Linked DNA regions of Homo sapiens: all the other regions are reported to be linked to region 1. The links are microRNA targets in miRTarBase. Many come from high-throughput screens and were not tested one by one. Region 1 holds a microRNA gene; each other region holds the end of a gene's coding sequence.
Evidence for each region. Region 1 holds the annotated microRNA hsa-miR-425-5p (AAUGACACGAUCACUCCCGUUGA, at 1,759-1,781, opposite strand). A microRNA usually pairs through its seed, bases 2 to 8, with sites in the 3' UTR of a target mRNA and lowers its output. Matches are read on the target gene's strand: a 7mer-m8 pairs with bases 2 to 8, a 7mer-A1 pairs with bases 2 to 7 and ends in A, and an 8mer does both.

Region 1 (4,601 bases):
CCAGAAAGTCTCGGGAACGCAGGTGGCGGGTGCGCGTCTCCTTGATCCACACCGGACCGCCTGGCCCCAGGGCCGCGTTGAGGGCCCCCAGCGTCTCCCCGACCCCAAGGCGCCTGGTCGCCATGGTGACCGGAAGGAGTAAGCGGAACCGGAAAAAAATTTAGGGAGGTGGAACTTCCGGAAAGGACCGACTAGCTGGGGCGGGGATGCGGCGGTGGTCCCCGTAAGTGGACAGGTGCGCCAGTGGTAGCCCTGTCGGCTGCTTTCGACCTACCGCCCCCAGCGCCCCTTCCGCGTGGTCCACCTGCACAGCCGGGCCCCGGATCTGAAATCTCGGGGCCCTCCCTGGGCCTAGGGTTCTTTCGCTGTGACCCAGGCCTTAACCAGGAAAAGGATCCTCGCGACCCGGTGGGCGCTTAGACCGGGTACCGTCTCTTCTCATCGAAGTCTCACATGTTTGTTTTAATAACATTTCATTTCTCCCATTTTACACATGATGAATATTCGTCACTGGAATAAGGCAGTATAACATTAAGGCCACTTTCACGACCTACTTAAAATATCTCGTTTTAAAAAGAATAGTGTTCCGCGGTTTCAGGTTATTTGCAAGCATTTTCTCGTTTGAGATATGGGTGTTTTTTTGTTTGTTTGAGACGGAGTCTTGCTCTTGTCTCCCAGGCTGGAGTGCAGTGGCACGATCTCGGCTCACTGCAGCCTCCACCTCCCGGATTCACAGGATTCTCCTCCTCAGCCTCCCGAGTAGCTGGGATTACGGGCGCCCGCCACCACGCCCGGCTAATTTTTGTATTTTTAGTAGAGACGGGGTTTCGCCATGTTGGCCAGGCTGGTCTCGAACTCCTGACCTCGTGACCTGCCCGCCTCGGCCTCCGAAAGTGCTGGGATTACAGGCATCAGCCACTGCACCCAGCCCGGGTGGTCTTTATGCCCAATAAATAAGCACTCTGATACAGTTGGCGGTTTTCTTCTCTTGATACCTGAGAAATCACAACCATCATGATGGCTTCCAGAATTACCAGACTTTTTTTTTTTTTTTTTGAGACGGAGTTTCGCTCCTGTTGCCCAGGCTGGAGTACAGTGGTGTGATCTTGGCTCACCGCAACCTCCCCCTCCCGGGTTCAAGTGATTATCCTGCCTCAGTCTCCCAAGTAGCTGGGATTACAGGCACGCGCCACCACGCCCGGCTACTTTTGTATTTTTAATAGAGACGGGGTTTCTCCATGTTTGTCAAGCCTCGAACTCCCGACCTCAGGTGATCCGCCTGCCTCGGCCTCCCAAAGTGCTGGGATTACAGGCGTGAGCCACCGCGCCCGGCTCAGAATGACCAGCTTTTAATGTGACTCCTTTAACCTGGTGTGCTTTAACAACGATCCTTAAAGCTTCCTGTTTTAGGCAACAGCCATTTACGGGCCAACCAAATAATGCGACCATAATAGAAAATAGGCCTCAGTTGGAGTATCTTGCTCCTCTACCAATAGGAAAGGTCTTTTTCTTTCTCCCACAAAGGTTCCCAAATGTCTTCATTTCACTGTAACTTACTCACCCCCCACCCCACCCCCATTCCTTTTAATAGAGAAGCTAACTCAGTAGAGAGAGTTGGGAAATCCGGAGAGCAGGGAAACCCAGGGGCAGGAAAAGCTTGGCAAGGCCCCTTTCTGGGCCAGGGCTGAGGCCCTGCTGGGAGGCGCCGAAAGAGCACTGGGCGGACACGACATTCCCGATGGCTTCTCGGGTGCCCACTCAACGGGAGTGATCGTGTCATTCCAAAGCGCTTTCCATTCTGAAGGTGCATGACCTGGAGACAACTGCTTAGCAGGGTTGGGAACCCTCAGTCAAACTGAGGACTTCAGATACTCTCATCCACGAAGACGGTTGGGGTGGTTTTTCCCCAGGAAGTAAGAGGGCTATCTTTAGCGAGATGCGGGCTGAGGCAGCCCTGGGGGAGTCACTACCATTGCAGCCCTACCCAGAGGTCCTGGGTCCACCCTCCCTCGCCAATCCTCCCCAGGGTTCCAGAGATGGCCACCAGCCTCGGCTCTCCCACGTCTACACCCATCACCTCCAGCCTGAGGGCGCAACTGAGAGGAACTGAGACCCAAGCAGCTCAGTAAAGTATGTCTGGGGGTCAGGGGCACCCCATCTGGGCCAGGGCGCTGCTCAGGCAGGAGAGCAGGGGACGAAATCCAAGCGCAGCTGGAATGCTCTGGAGACAACAGCTGCTTTTGGGATTCCGTTGCCCGCTGTCCAGCCGTTGGCGGGGGGCGGGGGAGCTCCTGCCCCCAGGTCACTCGCCCTGGGGCCACATCAGAACCCGCCCATCCCCAGTCCCAGGAGGAAGACCCGGGAGTAGGTTGTGAAACGGAGTCTAGAGGGAACAAGACGCTCACCTGGGCCACAGAACAATAGAAGGGGAGGTGGGGGCCTCCCCTGGGACCGGGTCCCGATCCGGATTAGATCCGTGGGGCAGGATTAGCCCTGTTGGTCCCACGAAGCCTGGGCCACTGGTGCGGTGACGGTGGTGGGGCGGGCTTCGGAATCCGTCAGGAGGGAAGCGCGCCCGTGGGGCCGGAGAGGAAGTAAACCCGCGCGTCCACCTCGGGGACACCCCCGCGCTCGGTGGCCTTTGTCCGGTGACGCTGCCAGCGCCCGGAGCACCAGGGGCCGAAGGGGTCCACAGAGCAGCCGCGGGACCCCCGGAAACCCATTGCGACCGGCCCCAGGAGACCCACCACCAGGCTCCCACTGTGCCGAGCTTCCCGCTCGCCCGGCCCCGCGGGTAGCGAAAGCGACAATGTTCCCCTGAGGCCACGACAGAGCCGGCGTGCCGAGATGCCCAAACCCCGCGCGGGGGCCAGCGACTCTCGCGCCAGTAGGCCCTTGACTTGGATCAAGACGGGGGACGGGGGACTCCCAGGACGCGAGCAGAGTGAACGAGGACAAGGTGATGCTCCACGCGCTTCTACTTCAAGTCTGGTCCGGTTCGGCCTGGTCTGGGCCAGCCGAACAGCCACCCAAACACTATCACAGCTTGCCCTTCCGCTTGCTCTGGCTGCCTGCAGACTTGGAGCCATTTTAAGGAGAAACCACCTGGCCACGCCCCCTAGAGAACCCGAGAAGCCAATCCACGCTCGGCCACGCCCCTCTCCGCGCGCTGCGGAGAGGCCAACGGTCGCGCGGGTGACGGTTAGGGCGGGGCGTGCTTCCGCGTCTAGCCGGAGAAACTTGAGCCGGCTGCCCCGCCCACGGTGCCCGAAGCCCCAAAGGCTGGAATTAGGGGCTAGAAGTCTGGCACCCACCGCCTGGCCAGGTGTTCGGGACGCGACCAGGTGGGCGGTCGCCCCGCCCCGGGAGCGCGGCTTAATAGCTGAGAGCCCGGGGGCCAGGCCGCGGCTGCGGCCCAGGCAACGCCCTGAGGGTGGCCACGCTGCCAGGTGTTCCACTCCCCCGGGACTATGGGCAAGGGCCCGGGGCGGGGAGGGCGGCAGGTGCTGACACTGGAGCTGCGCCGGAGGTCGGGGAACTCGGCCTCCTAAGACTGAGGACACTCGCCTGCTGGGCCGGTCGAGCTGTGCGGTGCCCTCCGGGACGCAGGGGGCGCTGCAGCCACGCTGGGTCAGGCTCCGCAGGGCCCTCCCAACCCGGGGACTAACGGCGCCGGTGACGACTTCGCCGCGCGTTGGTCAGCCATGGCCACCGCTCTCGCGCTACGTAGCTTGTACCGAGCGCGACCCTCGCTGCGCTGTCCGCCCGTTGAGCTTCCCTGGTGAGCTTGGACCCCGCGCCCTCGACCATCCAGCCCCCTAGGGCCGGCGACTGCCAGCCCAGCACCTTCCGGCCTCTCGGGCTGCCCGGCCCGGCCCCGCGCCCCTGACCCTTTCCCTCCGCAGGGCCCCGCGGCGAGGGCATCGGCTCTCGCCGGCGGATGACGAGCTGTATCAGCGGACGCGCATCTCTCTGCTGCAACGCGAGGCCGCTCAGGCAATGTACATCGACAGCTACAACAGCCGCGGCTTCATGATAAACGGAAACCGCGTGCTCGGCCCCTGCGCTCTGCTCCCGCACTCGGTGGTGCAGTGGAACGTGAGTCCTGGCCCGCAGTGTGGAAACTGAGGCCCAGAGTCACAGGCCCTCACCCTGCTTGGTCCCTGCAAACTTGGCTTTCCTCTGTCTCCTCCTGCAGTGGATGGAGATGGGGAGAGGCTGCGTGGATTTGTCGTATTAAATGTGCCTCCTCCCTGCACAGGTGGGATCCCACCAGGACATCACCGAAGACAGCTTTTCCCTCTTCTGGTTGCTGGAGCCCCGGATAGGTACTGGGGAAGGGGAGGGAGAACAGAGGTGTTCTGGGCCCCAGAAGGCGACCCCCACTGCAGCCTCTCAACAGAACTGTAGACTAGCCACACCCACCCTTCCCTAGAGATCGTGGTGGTGGGGACTGGAGACCGGACCGAGAGGCTGCAGTCCCAGGTGCTTCAAGCCATGAGGCAGCGGGGCATTGCTGTGGAAGTGCAGGACACGGTGAGTCCCGGGACTGGGGCATGCTGCGGGGAGCACAGGCCTGGCGCTAGACAGGCTGATGCTGG
Region 2 (4,601 bases), not on the chromosome of region 1:
TTGAAATAACTTCATAAAAGGATTTAAGCTGAATAATATTATAAATTGATCTCTTTCCAATTTGCAGGGTGATGACATAAGATTTTAAAAACTGATGTGATTTGAGAATTAAAATAAGTAGGAAGGAAGATATGCTTAGACCTAAATATGGGAAATATAGGAGAAGGCTCAGTTCTAACCAGTCAATTCCCAAAAACATTCAGCTTTGGGATGTCGAACCTTATTTTTGTCCTTGGTGGTTTTCTATTTAGCTGGAGAATCTGTGTTTATCCACTAAAGTAGCTATAACTTAAAATATTCATTTTATTTTTAGAATACTAGAATCCAGTAGGTCGGAAAATGGGGACAGGAACAGAAAAGTCTGCAACACAGATGCTTAAAAAGCCAACGAGACGAGAAATTTGTGAATGGCAAACTGCAAACTAAGCTTCTCCCTCTTTGTATTCAGCTTGGGCAGTTCTTTGTTAGAAATTCTCATTCAATTTTAATCTGAAAAGTTGTAGAAAACCTGGAGTCCAGAAAACAAAACATTAAAGTAATTCTGCTAGGAATAAAGTGGCATAATCCATTTTGAGAAAGTAAGCCAAAACATGAAATTGTTTTGAGATGCTATAGTTGAATTTAACAAGGAGCCCAAATTACGGAATCTCAGGCTCAGATGCTGTGTTAAGAGGCATCATCAACATGATGTTGAGGGAACATCTGAAGGTAAGGATGGTGGCTTGTGTTCTGGGGCACAGCACACCTGTTTGTTTACACAGGTGAAGTAATCAACAGAGTTGGCCTTGAACAGCAAAATGGAAAGGGAAATAGAAATATGCATCTCGGCCAGGCATGGTGGCTCACGCCTGTAATCCCAGCATTTTGGGAGGCCGAGGCGGGTGGATCATCTGAGGTCAGGAGCTTGAGACCAGCCTGGCCAACATGGTGAAACCCCATCTCTACTAAAAAAAATACAAAAATTAGCTGGGCATGGTGGCGCACACCTGTAGTCCCAGCTAATCGGAGGCTGAGGCACGAGAACTGCTTGAACCTGTGAGGCGGAGGTTGCAGTGAGCTGAGGTGAGATCATGCCACTGCACTACAGCCTGGGCAACAGAGTGAGACTCGGTCCCAAAAAAAGAAAAAGAGCATCTCTATGTGTGGGTCAAAGGAAAATCTAGTAAAGGGCCATGTGAACAGCCATCAGTAACTGAAGAGAGGTGTTGCTGAGTGGCACTGAGTTGTGGGGCCAGAACACAGGTTTTGAAGTCATTGGGAGCAAGATGAAAAAAATCCTGTTATTTTCCTATGGAAGAGAATGTATTGGGTACTCAGCTGATTTGAAACAGTAAAATGCTGTGGAAGGCTGGAGGAGTAGCTGCTATCTACTAAGAATGAAAGGAAAAAGTAAGTTTTAAGTGTTCAGGAGGAGTTAGTGAGCCTTAGGAAAAGACATGTAAAACACAAGAACATGTTTAAGAGAGAAATTGTGGACACCTTTCCCTTTAAAATTATGTTTCCATTGTCTTAGATGCAGAACTCCTTCAATCAGATAATCTACAGGTAAGAAGATCACTTTTAAAAGTCACATTCAGTCTACCTGATATAAATATTTTGTAGACCTTGATTCTCCTTCCCTCGAGTATGCTTTATGTGGCCCTGGGCATGTCACTTTCTCTAATACTCAATTTCCCCCGTTGTAAAATAGGGTTGGTATGATTGAATCCAAATAATGCAGTAACAGCTCAGTCAATAATAGCAACTTATGATTATATTAAAAGGAAAAAAAGGCTTAATAATAAAATACAATTTATTAAAGGAATCATGTTTACATAGATACAGAACATCTTGGATATTTCAACACCATAGCAACACAAAATTAATTTCTTCATGTATAAAAGATGTGCTGAAAGCTGCATGCCTCATCAGTTTTTATTTTATTGGTTATGGCTATAGTTGACATCTTTCCATATAAAAACAAACTGCACAGCATCACATATAGAGTACAGACATCTTAAGTTCATTCACAAAGTTAATTTTTCTAAACTGCCCTTCAAAAATTTACATCTTTGCTCAATTCTAAACATTCAACAAAATTAGCTTCCCAAGAAACAAAAATGATACCCAATTTCTTTGCTTTTCTAGAAGTAACTTTCCATTTGTTCATGTATTTTGATATGTTATATTCCCCACCCGAATTAAACCCTTTGTTAAAAGAACAACCTACTTTAGGTTCAGTCTAAAAATAAAGCGTACTAGATTCTGGAGTGTTTTTCAAATATTTTAAAATATTTGCCACTTATGGTTAAAAAAAACGTGAATAAGAATATCATGTGAGTGTAGATAGGCACCATACTATACACTCCTCTCAGAATCATTTCTAGAATGTGTATAATCCCGGCGTTAAGTGATGGTGGGAATGATTTGCCTTTAAAAGCCTACAAATTAAAAGGGGAAAGATGCTAAGCTAGATGCTGGTTTTCTGTAAAGATGAATTTGTGAAAAACTGCTTTATGGTCTAGAAATACGTAAGCCTGGCATTAGCTGATGGCACATTCTAACATTTTATAGCATTAAAAAACATCGACTCATTCCATTGGATGAAAGCCATGGTGACATTTTTACAAAAGCTGTACCCAGGAATCCACTCAACGTCCTCTCTTCAATTGTCGTTTTTCATCAACAAAGCCTATATATATATATATAAATGAGTTGCTGTGCTCTCACCATGGAGCAGTGTTGATTTGATGTAATGAAGTATTAAACGTTCTCCTTGCTCTCTTTGCCTTCAACTAAGTTTCTGTTAGTTTTTGGCATGCCAGATTCTCTGCTTCCATCTTGATTTCCTATCTCACTGCATGACCATCTTAGAGCTGTTACTAATTCAAAGTCTGGGGTTTTTTTCTCCCAAAGGTCAGTCTAAGGAGGCAGCCACCTATATGACATGACGTCAGAGGGATTAGGAAGGACCCACACTCACCTTCCCTAAGGCTTACTGACTTGTACATAAGGTTTATAATTTAGGTATACCCACCCTAAGTAACATCTGATTGAAGGCATGAACTTGCTTGAGATCCACTCTCAGAAACAGGTTTAGAGGGGAAAAGAAAAAGAATACTGGGAGCTTCAAGGAGGAAGAAAAGGGCCACAGAACAAGGGGAAGCTGGGCCTATAGCAGTCCAGCATGGTAAGGGGCCAACAGTTGGCTTCTAAAAGGTAATGGGTTAACACAGTCATCCTAATACCACCTCCTGAGATGCTGAATTTTCTCTCAGCTAAGTACACATTTCTATTTTCAGGGACAGCTTACATAAATCAGAATTATATTTTTAGGAATCTTTAATCATGAATTCCTCTCTAAATTTCAAAATATTTTATGACTTCTAAGGAAACTTTTTTTACAATAAATAATAAAGAAAGATTTGGGATTTGCAGAATCTTCTGGCCCAATTAAAAACAAAAGAAGCTGTAAATATCCAGAACTTAATAGATGTATAAATTATAAACAAAACATGTCCCTGCCCCAAGGTATTGAAATTACATTACTATAGATACATCCCATTTATGAGGTAGTCCGATTCCTCAGATGTAATGGGACGAGCTTTTTTCAGTTTCTGTTTCACCAGTCGTAGTCGGCATGCAACCATGAGAAGCAGCAGAGCAGTGATAGCCAAACCCAGCGCCAGGGGTAGCACTGCACCTTTGAGAAGGTTAGACATGAAGAGGGCAAGCCAGTGATTAGTCACAGTGACAGCTACTGGTCACTATATGATACGCGCTTTGCATGCACTATTTTATTTAATCCAAACAAATTGTTATTAGTATTATCACTATTTTGCAGATTAACTAAGGTGTACCAAGGTTAAGTAATTTGCTTATTTGCCTAGGAGGCTGTAAGTTGTAGGTTCAGGTCCCAAACCTAGACTTTTTTTTTTTTTTTTTTTTGAGATGGAGTCTTGCTCTGTTGCCCAGGCTGGAGTGTAATGGCTCAATCTCGGCTCACTGCAACCTCTACCTCCTGGGTTCAAGCGATTCCCCTGCCTCAGCCTCCCGAGTAGCTGGGATTACAGGTGCCTGCCACTGTGCCCAGCTAAATTTTGTATTTTTAGTAGAGATGGGGTTTCAACATCTTGGCCAGGCTGGTCTCAAACTTCTGACCTCGTGATCCACCTGCCTCGGCCTCCCAAAGTGCTGGGATTACAGGCGTGAGCCACCGTGCCCGGCCAACACAGACCTCTTTAAAACCAAATTCTCTACCAGCTTCCTACAAAATTTGTATGGCATCAATGGGTACACATACTACCATCTGATCACTCATATCCAACTGAAATAGGCATTCTGATCACGAAATTTTTTTGTTGTAGTCATTGACTATATTTATGAATTCATACATGATCATTCTTCAACTAAGTATGAACTAACTCCTGATTTCTTGTTCTAGTTAGGGCTTAAGAAATTTATTTCCTTCTAAATCCAGGGAACTGACTCAGTCAGTAGAACCTTTGTTGAAAACTAACTTCCAAATATGCTGGTGTGATTTTGGACATTAAAGGAAAACATTTCTTTAGTTTTTCCTGTGAGGTGGATTCTAGACACCAGAGTAGAAGTAGCGAGGCTTG
Region 3 (4,601 bases), not on the chromosome of region 1:
TTTAAAAATTCCAAGAAAGGTTGTGTGCAGCGGTCCTGAGTCTTTGTTCAGCCTCTCGGCCTGTGTACATTTGCACACTATATACATCACCATTTCACAACATATAGTTTGTAATCTCTTGCACTTAACTCTTAACCACTGTTTTTAAAAGTGTTGTGCTCAGGATTAATGCTTCATACCAACTTTTGCCCTTCCATGAATTAGAAATAACCTTCTGGAACTATTGTGGATTCTAATCCAGGAACTTAACCAAAATGAAGGGAAAATGAATGTCCACATTCAAACAGTCCACAAAGAACATTGAATTAAAGCTCCCTGCTGACCACAGTCAATTCTACAATAATGCAACATGTATGTTCCTAGAAATCACTGCTTTAGGCAAAGCTGCACAATGGAAATCACAGAACTTCTGGGAAAAATGAAACTAGGGCCACAACATCCCAAAATGTAATGAGTCACACACTGAAAAGAAAAAGAAATCTAATAAAAACAGTAGCACAATTATAAAAACGCTAACTGGTTAGGAAATATTCAAAATATAAAAACAGGGCAAGTTACCTTGAAAAAGATGTAAGGCACGCCTGTGGTTGTGGGCATCAGAAGGATGGCAGCTCTTGGGTTATTGTAAAGAGGAGAAAGGTGATCTGATGTCAGGTGGAAACGTGTAACTCCAGATATGAACGAGTGTAACAAATCACATGCACTGAAGTGAGGTGCTGGAGATGTTTGAAGTGTCGGTGTGTTGTGTTTCCCTATGCAGCTCAGTTGAGTGCAGTTCTCTGCATTCACCTAATGTTCCTTGCAGACCAAACGGCACACAAGCAATGTGACAAGTGCATTATGCTCAAATTATTCTCTAATATGGTGGTCCCCAATCTTTTTGGTGCCAGGGGCTGGTTTTGTGGAAGACAGTTTTTCCACGGACTGGCAGGGGGCTGAGGAGATGGTTTTAGGAAGAAACTGTTCCACCTCAGATCATCAGACATTAGTTAGATTCACATAAAGAGTGCTCAACCTAGATTCCTCCCATGTGCAGTTCACAATAGGGTTCGCGCTCCTATGAGAATCTAATGCTGCTGCTGATCTGAAAGAGGCGGGGCATAGGCGGTAATGCTGGCCAGCTGCTCACCTCCTGCTGTGCAGCCAGGTTCCTAACAGGCCATGGACTAGTACCGGTCCGTGGCCCGGGGTTTGGGGACCCCTGCTATAATACATCAGTTGCATTAGAAGAAAAATGAGTTATCAGAGCAAGTGCTATAGACAAGCTGTCTGTGTTAACCTGGCACCAAGTGGAATGCCGTTAAGTCTGCTATCCATCAATGGTATCCCAAGGAAGTTTCAAAAAATGGTGATACACATAGAATTAAGGTGTATCAAAGCTAAAAACAAAACATATGACTTTATAGGATGTTCATGGAAGAGATTCTTTTCCTCTACTTGTTCATCTTGCGGCAAAGTCAATTGTGTTGTGGAAGTTTGTTATTACTGATAAAATAATTCCCAAACTGAAGGCAAGGCTCTAGAAACTAAAAAGATTCAATTCCACTTTCATTTCTTCAAGGATTAGCTAAAGACACTGTCAGGACCGAGTATTTAAAATGTGTTTGGAACAGAGACACACAATTGGGACAGAGGAAAAAAGGATTCATCTTGTGAGTCATCAAAAGTGCTTTATTTGTAAAGCCCGGCTCATGACTGGAGTGTATTGTTAGCACTAGGAGATAACAGGGCAAACGTCCTCACTCTGTCCAAATGGTTTATCAACAGAAATAAATGACAGACTGTTTGTTATAGACAAAAATAAAAGCATTCTGTAAACTTCTAAAAGCATACACAGATTGGCCCCCAAGGAAACAGTTACTCAAATAATGTATGTGTACCTTATCTTTACTTCAGGGTCTCATGGTTGTGGTCTTGGGTCAAACCACAGTAGAACTTCACAACACAAAAACTGATCTGATGCCAGAATTAATGGTGCAGGGAAAAACCAAATCATAGTATGGATTACTTTAAATACATAAAAGATGAATCTGTACACTACGTGACAGTGGTGTTAACACTGGCTGCTGAGGATACCAAATCTACATAAAATGAGTGGACAGTATACGGAGGGCACGACTGCTGGCTTCCAAAGACTCTGTGAACTAGATCCACATACACGGGGCACAGCTGCAATCTGGACAGCCCTGAAGTAAAGTTCCTGGAAAAGGCAGTACGGCAGGGAGATCTGTTGAGTTGCAAGTAATAATTAAAGGGTCGATTTTTGTTTGTTTGTTTTCTTTTCTGAAACTGCCCACAAAAATCATATCATGTTTTAAACAAGGAGTTTCAAAGGCATGGCTTTAGCGCAGCATGTAAGTGGATAACCTACTCTAAGCAAGACTAATATTTAAGCTCAATGCCTTTTGGAAAATGCAGGAGAGTTGGTAGATACATGATCTAGGTTGGAAATTTATAACTTGATTAAAAACAATCAGCACAGTTTAGGGCAATGAACTTTCATAAACCAGACTGGGGCGAAATCTCTTTTTAAAAAAATCAATCATTAGGTTGATAAATGTACATTTGGAGGAAAAAAAAATCCTTTTCCTTTTATTGTGAAAGACTGTCTACCATGTACTTTGACTAAAACACTCACGTAAAAACATGGCTGCAGGATACGTCTCAAAATATGACAAACGTTATTTCACCTATACTGTGACTTTACATGTAAACTTCAAAAATCACATGCTGTACATCAAATTTTTAGATTCAAAAGATATCCCTGTTTTCCTAATAATGTAAACAGTAAAACTGAGGGTTTCAGTTAAAGGGATAATTCGTAACAAAATCCCATTGTTGAAACAATGGTCAAACATAAACATCTTATAATTCAGATCTGCATTTGGTAACAGGAGAATTGAGAGTTTTGATGCTTTGCTGGTTTTCCCACAGTGGGAGATGTAGATACCATTGCCCCAAACTATGCACTTTTCAGGTAAGCTTTACTTTTATTTTGTAGCATTAATTCCTATATTGCAACGTAAGGGTGAACAATGAAGGCTCCAGGCAAGAAAAGAGAAGTAAGCAGTTTTCCTGGACATATTGGCCGAGGTGAAAAATGTATAGAGAATCACTGGGGCATCAGCTGCTTGTTGCGGGAGGGGTGGGGGCTCTGGACACCAGGGGGTCCTGACAAGGCTGGGGCCAGAACCCTGAACCAGTACACACGGAGACGCCAGCATTCTTCCGTCCAGTGCTGGGGGCTCAGGTTATCAGTGTTAGGGAGAGTGTCTGCGTGCGGGGTAGAAATGGAACATTCGCTGTAGGTTTTTTCCTTGGAATCATCATCATTATTATAATAATCATCATTATTATCTTCATTATTCTGAATACTGTCTCACATCTTTCAACTCCAAAAAAAAAAAAAAAAAAAAAAAACTGATCCACAGTTTGTTGTGTGATGCCAACACGGTGCCTGACATCATGCACTTCCTTCTCCCCTCCCCCACACGTGTGTTCATTCACTCACTCACTCACTCACTCATTCATTCGGCCATAGCTGGAATCAAAGGGTCTTTGTTGGGACACATACTGACCGAAGTGGATCTGTTTTAATTAATTTATGACTTTTAAAATGCACACGCGCGCACACACTCACCCCCCCCCAACACACACACACACACATATACACAAAGTCAGAAATAGCTAGAACGATGCTGGGAAAATCAGGTAGCTGTAAAGCGAGTAGCCCCCAAATCAGTCATCTTGGCCTGAAGATGTAAACAAGGAGGTTTGCTTCCTGCAAGATGAGTACTTCACTGAGTTTGGTTTTCATTTTTCCTACACCGAAGCCACCTCTGTCCATCCAATGTTCATGTCTGTCCGAGGCTGCGCAGGAGGTTACGTCAAGATGTGGCCAATAAAGTCCAAAAAGCGCTTTGAATACTGTTCTGGGTTCACGGTGGAGATCTCCGCGCCAGCCTGGGCAGTTTTTAAAAAAGGAAATATTGACATAGTGTTTATGATTTCCCCAAATTATTACTCAATATCTACAGCTATTTCCAATGGCAACTGAATATACAGCAAGCAATTTTCAAATCCATGCAGTCTCTGCTCTGAAAAACATCACTCAAAATATCTTGGCGCTCATGGTTGAATAAGCAAGGTTCTTACAAATCTGTGTCTGCAAATGAGACAAAGGGCGACAGGAGCACCAGATGCTACCACACACACCGGGGCTGTTGCAACTCACAAAAAAATCAAACAGGCCACGTTTGGGATGTTACTATCAAAGAGTGGAATTGTTCAGAAGTCACGGAAACAATACTTATGTTATACTTTTCAAGAAGGCAGACTGGAGCCACCTTGAGAATGACATCAACATTTGGCGAAAGGGAAACCTTAATGACGATGACTTAAAACCGCATGATTTCTTCAGGACCCCTTCGTTTCTGGACAGAGGCCCCCAGCTCAGTGCTCAAACATGAGGGGCAACAGCAGCAGCCACAGGTTCTGGGACAGCTGCCCCCAGCCCATTCCCTGCACCGTAACCAGGTGAGGCACAACACTGCTGGCTCCATCTTGCCCACGGGGGAAGGAGCTGACTTCCCTCTGCAGCA
Region 4 (4,601 bases), not on the chromosome of region 1:
CAGGCCAGGTGTGGTGGCTCACTCCTGTAATCCCAGCACTTTGGGAGGCCAAGGTGGGTGGATCGCTTCAGCTCAGGAGAACAGCCTGGCCAACACAGCAAGTCTCCCATCTCTCCAAAAAAACAAAATAATTACCCCAGAATGGTGGTGCTTGTCTGTAGTCCCAGCTATTCAGGAGGGTGAGGCAGGAGGATTGCTTGAGCCTGGGGAGTTGAGGCGGTGGTGAGCCATGATTGTACCACTGCACTCCAGCTTGGGCAAGAGCGAGACGAGACCCTGTCTCAAAAAAATAAATAGGCCAGGCATGGTAGCTCACGCCTGTAATCCTGGCACTTTGGGAGGCTGAGGCTGGGTGGATCACCTGAGACCAGGAGTTCAGGACTAGCCTGGCCAACATGGTAAAACCCTGTCTCTACTAAAAACATAAAAATTAGCTGGGCATGGTGGCGGGTGCCTATAATTCCAGCTACTTGGGAGGCTGAGGCAGGAGAATTGCCTGAACCCAGGAGGCAGAGGTTGCAGTGGGCAGAGGTTGCAGTGAGCAGAGGTTGTACCACTGCACTCCAAGTCTGGGCAACAGAGCAAGACTGTCTCAAAAAATAATAATAATAAATAATAAAATAAAATAATAATAATTGGAAGACCACTCTAAAGCAAGTTAGGGAACTATTCCTCAATTCTTTTTCCAGTTGCATAGTATTCCACTGTGTGGGTGTACCATTGTTAACTCGACCAGTGCCCAACTGATGGAGATTTGGGTGTTTTGCTATTACATCAATTAACGTAAATGGCAGGTAGGGTAGGGCTGGTATGGTGGCTTGGTTCCAGGAGATTCTCAAAGACCCATGCTCCTTCAAACTTGTCCAGCAGTGCTCGACTTCGATACTTCATGGTCCAAGGTGGTTGTGACAGCTATAGCTAGAGCAGCCACATTCTAGCCAGGAAGAGGGAGGACAGGGCAAAGGAAAGCATGTCCTGATCCTAAGGGACACCTTCAGAATTGGAATGAACCACTTCTGCTGTCTACCCGTGGTGAGCTCCACTGCACTCATGTTGACCTTCATGGAAACTCTTCTATGTTGCTGGTGGGTTCCTGGACACCCAAATGAGGGCCTATAAAGGTCTGCTCTGTACCTCTGGTGAGCTCTTCTAAACCCATGGTGTTTCTATACGGCCAATACGATCTCATCTATGCCTGTGGTGTCTTCTACACCCACTCCCTTCCCCCCAGGAGGAGTTCTACTGGAATGGGCACTCTACCTGCAGTGGGATCTCACTTACACCTGTGTTAACATCTTTGCCTGTGGAGAGCTCTTCAACGCCCGAGGTGACCTTAGATCATGATTGCTCCAAACCTGTGGTGAGCACTTGAACACCCATGCTGAGTTCCTCTCAACACACAATAAGCTCCCCTACCTTCTGGTGACGCGTCCCTCTCCCTGTGGAGTGTGATCTGGCCCATACCTGTGGCCCACTCTATGTTCATGGTGAGCTCTATTACCCATGGGGAGTTCCTGAGCAGGGGTGGGGCATTGCTCTACATCCAAACCTTTCTCAGCCATGGGGATCTCATCTATACCCCCAGTCAGTTCTACGTCCATGTTTCCAACCACCCTGACAGTTCTTGCACTAACTGTTCTGACTACTAGCTCCTCCAACTGCATGAACCACAGCCTTAAATGTCTCCTGCACCAAGCTGCTTCTTCTGCACACCCTAACCTTGTGGCTCTCACCTGTTTTCCTAGCTTAATTAACAGAATGACCTTCATCCAAGATAAAAATCTCAGTTGGCCTTGGGCTCCCCCTTTGCCTCCAACCCCAATACAAAGAGCCGGATGCCCTTAAGTTTTTATTATTTTTTAAATCTGGGTGTGTAGGATCTCTCGTAGCTTTGATGGTAGTTCAGCTTCACCAGTCCTCTTCTGCTTAAATCATTTCTACAGGTCTGTTTTACTGGTCTTGTCGTCTGTTTTTTTCCCTTCAACACTCCCCCTAGCTATTTGAGGGGACTTCCTGTAAAACAAAAACTAAGTAAACTGTTAATAGTGGTTAACATGGGTGGGGGAGGGGAGGGGATAATAGGAAACGTGTCTATTTCTGACATGATTGGGTTTTTTAAATAAGGTATACATTTTCTAATATCAGAAAAATTAGTAAATAAGATGGTAGGCTGCCTTTTGTCTTCAAGATACACTCCAAACTTCATTCGTAGCCAACCTTCCCCCAAAAAGGGCTCTTGCATTCCTCACATGGAATTTCTTCATTCCCAACAATGCCTCACTTTTCCTTTTTTTTCTTCCACAGTGTTTGCTGGCCTGACAAATACAGTGTCCCCACAGCCTCTTTCCTCTGCTTTCGCAGTCCTAGTGTTCCATGCAGGATCAGAAAGCACTGAGGGCATTCGGTGCACAAATGGATTTGACACAAGGACCCAGATGAATAAGGTCTTTGGAAGGGCTGGGGGAACAGGAGTCAGGGACAACTCTGGATCCACAGGGTTCACGAACAATCTGCTGAGGCTGTCATCCAAGAATTAGAAAGCTGCCACTGCCACAACCACTACTGTATCTCATCACCCACCAAGCTGAAAACCAGACACTGGAATGCTGGTCAGTCATTCCAACTGGCTGGCATTCTCTTCAAATTTTCCTATCCGCAGCCACTATAGTAGGAAGGTGCCCCTACCTCATGCTGCCCTCCAAACAGAATATGCACTCAGAAAGCTAGCTGCAAGGGAGTCAAGTAGTTTTCAGCTTTCTAGCCTCTATAGTGAAGGACAGGCACAAAAGCAAGTGAGATGGAAATCAAGGGCCAACTGATAGTGCCCAGTGCAGATACTGCTGGGAAAAGTCAAGAACAGAGGAAAGGCTGGCTCTACAGGCCTTGACTCTCAGGCCATGCAACAGAAGGGCTGCAGAAGTGACATAACAAATGCCTAGCTTCAGAAAAAACACTCCTAGAGAGTTGGCCATGACGTGGGACTGAAATAGGTCAAGGCCAAAGGCAGTGCAAAAGCCTCCATAAGCATCAAAGGAGACAGGAAAGAGAAGGTTCTAAGAGACAGGAAATATGTCCAAGAATTGGGCTTTCAGAATAGGACTCCAAATTATATTCTGAGTATAACTCCTCCAAAATCCTCCAGTCTGCTTTGGTTTCCAGAGACTATAAATTGCTCTAAAGTTATCTATAGGGAATACATCACCAGCACCATTTAAGAAGAATCAGGGACAACAATAATGCTTTAGGAATACATGGGACACAAGGTACTTCAATTTTCTCCTTTCCTCAACAGTTTTATTGCCTTTTAAGAAAATTTTTGTAAAATATAAATACAAAGGCAGAGAATTTACTTACAAAGTTAAAACACAGATTTCAAACATAAACACACGATTCAGAAAATTTTAGTTTTATGTACATTTCCAAGCAACCTCAACATATTATGTTAGTTTTCAATATTTTACAGGGTACAGAAAAAAATAGCTCAAAGTCTTCTTTAAATAAGAGCATAAAATGTTTAAACATATAAACAATCCGGTTTGATGCGTGAAAACTAATTTCACAGCTTTTAAATTAGGATATAAAAGTTTCATACAATTAGTTGTTGTGTGTGGATATGGTTTGAATTTATATTACACACTACTGGATTACATCCAATAGCATTTACCTGGCCCGAGCAGGTACTCTGTAAACAAAACAAAGTTATATCACCAAGTGCCTTCCCCGAATTCGCTCCCTCAAACCAACCACACAGTTCTGACCACTCTACAGTCATGGCCTGTCATCAGAGCTTTGTATGAAATTAAGTCAAAGTGTGGAGCTCCTTTTACTCATTTTTTTTTCTCCTTAAAAAAGAAAAGAAACAAATGTTCCAAGTAAAAACAAACGTATCCCAAAGCATGTGTGCATTGAAAAGTAAAGAAACATTATAACAACTTCATAAAAACTGACTTAAAAGTTTAAAAGGAAAAAAACATGTTTCTAAGTCCTTCTGACTGGAGTAATTTCTCTTATATAAAGAAGAGATATTTTCATATGTAATAGTGTCCTTTCTTTACAGAAATAGTTGTATTATGACACATATGCACAAGGATTAACACTATAACACACTGTACATGGTGGGTCCAGCTTGCTCACCAGTAGTTGTCTGAGGCCAGATCACTGGGGTGGAGCCACTCTACAGAGGAGCCCAGCAGAGTCTGAATTTCGTTCGTGAATTCCACCAGATCTAACAGCTCCTTACTTTCAGGGTTGAAGGCTTCCAGGTCTTTGGAGCAAGAGAACAAGAGACTTGCAGAAACCTGCCGATAAAATTCTGCCTCTGCAATGGTGACAATTTCCACGTTTGGAAAATTGCAGCGAAATATGCGGGAGGACATTTTCAATTTCTTAAGGACATCCGAAAGCAGTAGCCAGTTTCGTGGCCTACAAAACAGAAAGGAAAATGCTTTGAGTTTCCAGTAAAATGAAAAGTGCGCCCAACTATTAATATTAACTACCAACCCAAGTGGACCAGCCTCTATGTCCTTTCATTCTGCTCCCACCCCTCATTTCTCACCATACCTACTCTCTGATCACCATTTTTTTTTTTTTTTTTTTTTTTT
Region 5 (4,601 bases), not on the chromosome of region 1:
ATTGTTGCTAAATTGCTTTCCTGAGATGTTATATCCTGGACCTCCGGGATGGCTATGATTGGAATCTGTCTGCCTTTATTTCTAACATGAAAACACCATGGCCCGCCTGTGCAGAAGGTGACTTCCCAGGTATCTGAGCACCTTGGGGAAGCTAATTTCTACAAACCGCAAAGGAACTCTCTTATTTCCCTATTCAGGCCCCTACCTTGTATTCAGCACTTTACTTCAGCCTGCCGAAGGCTGAACTTCCTTCAACCCCTTTGAGCCCTCATCTGAGGTCCATAGTTCCTTAGCTGGTATTGCTGAGGCTGTAGCACATCCTCACTCACCCCTGCCAGGGCCTCAGCTCATCACACTGCTCATTTAGCTATGAGCTTGATGTGCAGCCCAGGGTGACACTCAGAGAAAACAGAGCCTTCTCTTCTTGGTTGGGTATAATATTTAAGCTAAGGCCTATGCTTTAAGATTTGGGACTCAATTTTGCCCTTTCGATCTGTCTATATCAATACCTGAAAGCAGTTTTTCTTGAACTCATTTTACTTTGATTTTGAGATCCGCTTTTGATGCTTCTTATTTAATAAGGCACAGGCACAGGCCTACATTCATTATTTAGACTAGAACTGATTTTGCACTTGATGTTAAGAGAAAAAACTGGCACGCTTGTTCAGGGTAATTGCATAGAATGAAATGAATGCAATTTATGTAAAGCATTATTGAAGGAATAAAAAACTTCCAAGGTAAGCCTGTTAAATCATTCATTTAGTAACTGACTGACATTTGCACAGATCTGGATCCTGCGCTTTGCCAGATTTTAAAGCAAAGCAAAGAAACAATTACCTAAAAGTGGTGGTGAAAAACAGTATTGTAAGAAATCCTGGAAGGTGGATCTATTTTAAGTGATTATTCTCTCTTAAATAATGTAATTCACAGACTATGGAACTAGGCCCAGGGAATCATCTCTCAGCCTGTCTTCACCTGGCAACCTTAGGCATTCCAGCATTAGAAGATAAGTGCAATGCCAATGACACCAACCACTTCTTTTTGAATGATTATCTCTTATTCTTTTAAACATTTATATTTCATTTTATCATTAAAGTTTTTGCTATGCACGCACTACACAGGTGCAGTTAGGCTTAAAGTCTAAGTCTAGGATTCTAGCTCCTTGAGAAATACTTGTTTCTCTTTTTTTCTCTCTTTTTATTTTTTTAATTGAGACGGGATCTCCCTCTGCCGCCCAGACTGGAGTGCAGTGGTGTATCTTGGCTCACTGCAACCTCTGCCAGCCAGGCTCAAACGATTCTCCTGCCTCAGCCTCCCGAGTAGCTGGGACTACAGGCGCGACCCACCACATCCGGCTAATTTTTTTGTATTTTTAGTGGAGACAGGGTTTTACCATGTCTGCCAGGCTGCTCTCGAACTCCTGACCTCAGGTAATCCGCCCACCTCAGCCTCCCAAAGTGCTGGGATTACAGGTGTGAGCCACTGAGCCCTGCCACTTGTTTCTCTTTTACATTTCCACTTAATATCTAAACCCATCTGATGCAAAAAACAAAACAACAAAAAACAACAAAAAACTGATGTGAAGAAATTGTAAATCTATATCATTTCCTCTGCCCTACACATAAAAAGTCTAAAATTGATGAAGAGGTAAATGCAACATTTTCATCAGTTAATCATTCTCTAGACTTAATAAAAACATTTCTGGCAATCAGAAAAGGGGAAAAATCTTTAATTGATTTCTCAGGTAATTTTTTTCCAGATTGTACATAAAGTGTTCTTATGTTCTCTATTTGGATGTTTCAGGAGACATACAAATGAAATACAGTACATAGACAAATGAAATGCTAATAAGAAGTAGGATGATATTAAAATATCCTTACTTTGCCTGTATGGAACAAAGGCAGTCTACTCCATCGGGGAATCAAAGCAAATGTGAATAAGAGGTTTCCACCTTGCAAAACTGTGAGCTTCATTTGCCCTGGAGAGAACTACTAGGCAAGGCTTCACATGACAGTACCTGTAGGGATGTCCATGGGGCTGTGAAGCAGGTGTATTGTATCGAACATGCAGCTGCAATGAAGGCGTGGAGCTCAGGAGAAGCAGCCACTGACAATGCCCCTCCTGGCCGCAGGGTCTTCTGTGCAGCCTCCCATGGATCAATATACCAGTTAGTTAAAACACACATCAGTATTTTCTGTCCTTTAGCAACGATGATGATATTTGCCACCAGCGAGTGTGATCTGTGAGGCGATTTTAAAATGCAGTCCTGGGATTCTACTGTATTGAAACACCTTTGATTTTCTATTTGAATACTTCCAAGCTTTGTAATTATGCCACCATGTGCTCGTGATCGTAAGAAATTAATTTTAAACTAAATATTCTTCAGTATCCCTTTTCATATATATTTTCACCTCATATACATAGTTTGGGATAAAATAGTGTAAAGAGTATAGGAAAATGCAACAAATTAAAGGGTAGGACATTAAATAAAACACCAATTTACCTTGTTCTTCAAAGTTTTTAAGGTTCAAAAATTTATTGGTATTTTAAGCCAGTGGTCCCCAACCTTTCTGGTACCAGGGACCGGTTTCATGGAAGACAATTTTTTCACGGACTCGGGGTAGCGGGATGGGGGTGGGGGATGGTTTCGGCACGAAGCTATTCAACCTCAGATCATGAGGCATTAGATTCATCAGGCATTAGATTCTCATAAGGAGTGCACAACCTAGATCCCTCGCATGTGCAGTTCACAACAGGGTTCGCACTCCCATGAGACTCTAATGCTGCTGCTGACCTGACGGGAGGCAGAGCTCAGGCAGTAATGCAAGCTCTGGGGAGCAGCTGTAAATACAGATGAAGCTGTGCTCACTCACCCACCGCTCACCCCCTGCTGTGTGGCCTGGTTCCTAACCAGTGCCACGGACTGGTACTGGTCTGTGGCCTGGGGGTGGGGACCCCTGTTTTAAGCAGTTTAAGAATTATTCTTTTTCAGAATATCTACCTCTACTGGGATAAGATCACGTTTCTTTACTGTGAGCACACAGTAGGTGCTCAATAAATGCTTGTTGCAAGAATGAATGACCGGCCGGGCGCGGTGGCTCAAGCCTGTAATCCCAGCACTTTGGGAGGCTGAGGCGGGCAGATCACGAGGTCAGGAGATCGAGACCATCCTGGCCAACATGGTGAAACCCTGTCTCTACTAAAAATACAAAAAAAATTGGCTGGGCGTGGTGGCACACACCTGTAGTCCCAGCTACTCAGGAGGCTGAGGCAGGAGAATCGATTGAACCCAGGAGGCGGAGGTTGCAGTGAGCCGAGATTGTGCCAACGCACTCCAGCCTGGCGACAGAGTGAGACTCTGTCTCAAAAAAAAAAAAAAAAAAAGAATGACAATATGTTCCTATTTTTTACCATAATAGGTAAAATCTATAAGTAGTGTTATTTTTGCCTGCGACATTTATGTAACAAAACAAAGTTCAGTTTTAGAATTGATTTAAAGTAATACTATAAGAATGGAACATTTAAAGGTTGAAACATAAAGGATTAAACAAAAGTCTAAGGTCTCCCCATGAGTTTCTAAATATAGCATGCTTAACCAGGAAAATGAACACGAATATTTGTAAATAAATTTCAGATGAAAGGAAATTTTCAATATAAGCTGTGTAAGTTTAAATTAACATAAAGAAAACACAATTGTTTGTAAAAACAATTATACACATTGAGAGAAATGATAACTCTCTCTAAATTTGCATTCTCAATATTGTCTGTGCAAAATTGCTTGTAGTGTCCTCAAATGGATGTCTGTGGCCAGGCGCACAGAGAACATCCCCTTAAATGGTACATATTGAGGCAAGGCGGCCAGCTGTCTCCTTTAACTAGATGGAGTCTGGCCAGGTCACGGCTGTGCTTTCAAACAACTGGTCTGGATATGTGAGACCTGCAGAACAGGCAGCAGCAGCTGGAAGGCATCCTGTATGTACGTTGTACTGTTGCAGCCCTGTGAGAGGAGAAAAATGAGGTTGAAGGGTTATTTTCATAGTTCAACCTTGACAATACTTCCAATTGGATAATGTTCCCACTCTTCAACCCACCCCCCATATTGGATTATATTTATCTTGCAATATTGGTGCTTAAAGCAAGTGTAAACACATGCTTTTGGATGGGGCATGTCCAGCTCTCAATTATCTATACTAACAGAGAGAATAATTCACTCAAAATGAGGCAAATCATTTTCATGGAATTTTTTTTTTTTTTTTTTTTTGAGACAGAGTCTTGCTCTGACGTCAGGCTGGAGTGCAGAGGCACGATCTTGGCTCACTGCAACTTCCGCCTCCCAGGTTCAAGCAATTCCCCTGCTTCAGCCTCTCGAGTAGCTGGGACTACGGGCGTGCACCACCACGCCCAGCTAATTTGTTTGTATTTTAGTAGAGACAGGGTTTCACCATGTTGGCCAGGATGGTCTTGATCTTCTGACTTCGTATCTGCCCACCTCGGCCTCCCAAAGTGCTGGGATTACAGGCATGAGCCACTTCTATGGACTTTTAAGATCCATCAGTGTGTGTACTTTCTTGGCCCAGGGTATGTCCTGTCTTATCTATCTC

Region 2: miRTarBase lists LRP11 as a target of hsa-miR-425-5p. Seed matches in the 3' UTR shown: 7mer-A1 at 2,921-2,927.
Region 3: the mRNA of PIP4K2A is a reported target of hsa-miR-425-5p. Seed matches in the 3' UTR shown: 7mer-A1 at 2,671-2,677.
Region 4: the mRNA of BCOR is a reported target of hsa-miR-425-5p. Seed matches in the 3' UTR shown: 8mer at 4,070-4,077.
Region 5: miRTarBase lists FAM114A1 as a target of hsa-miR-425-5p. The part of its 3' UTR that is shown has no 7-base or 8-base seed match.

Annotation. Positions count from the first base shown.
Region 1 is chr3:49,018,441-49,023,041 of GRCh38, forward strand. MIR425 (microRNA 425) reads right to left here and starts at 1,794; the gene lies at 1,708-1,794. It overlaps NDUFAF3 (NADH:ubiquinone oxidoreductase complex assembly factor 3), which reads left to right and starts at 3,681. Exons shown (of 5, transcript NM_199069.2): 1 at 3,681-3,781; 2 at 3,906-4,098; 3 at 4,262-4,328; 4 at 4,436-4,536. The coding sequence starts at 3,705. MIR191 (microRNA 191) reads right to left here and starts at 2,269; the gene lies at 2,178-2,269. DALRD3 (DALR anticodon binding domain containing 3) reads right to left here and starts at 140. Exons shown (of 12, transcript NM_001009996.3): 1 at 1-140. The coding sequence starts at 124. RefSeq lists an enhancer at 2,768-3,537 and silencers at 3,053-3,255, 3,292-3,481, 3,702-3,801, 3,842-3,961, 4,022-4,071.
Region 2 is chr6:149,817,022-149,821,622 of GRCh38, forward strand. It overlaps LRP11 (LDL receptor related protein 11), which reads right to left. Exons shown (of 7, transcript NM_032832.6): 7 at 1,736-3,682. The coding sequence ends at 3,528. It overlaps RAET1E-LRP11 (RAET1E-LRP11 readthrough), which reads right to left. Exons shown (of 15, transcript NR_182438.1): 15 at 1,736-3,682. Among named protein-coding and RNA genes, the nearest start is that of RAET1E-AS1, 44 kb to the right of the region's middle.
Region 3 is chr10:22,533,319-22,537,919 of GRCh38, forward strand. PIP4K2A (phosphatidylinositol-5-phosphate 4-kinase type 2 alpha) reads right to left here. Exons shown (of 10, transcript NM_005028.5): 10 at 1,536-3,963. The coding sequence ends at 3,883. Among named protein-coding and RNA genes, the nearest start is that of LINC03027, 98 kb to the left of the region's middle.
Region 4 is chrX:40,047,979-40,052,579 of GRCh38, forward strand. It overlaps BCOR (BCL6 corepressor), which reads right to left. Exons shown (of 15, transcript NM_001123385.2): 15 at 3,273-4,422. The coding sequence ends at 4,131. Among named protein-coding and RNA genes, the nearest start is that of LINC03053, 41 kb to the left of the region's middle.
Region 5 is chr4:38,942,852-38,947,452 of GRCh38, reverse strand. FAM114A1 (family with sequence similarity 114 member A1) reads right to left here. Exons shown (of 15, transcript NM_138389.4): 15 at 1,714-3,997. The coding sequence ends at 3,896. Among named protein-coding and RNA genes, the nearest start is that of MIR574, 77 kb to the right of the region's middle.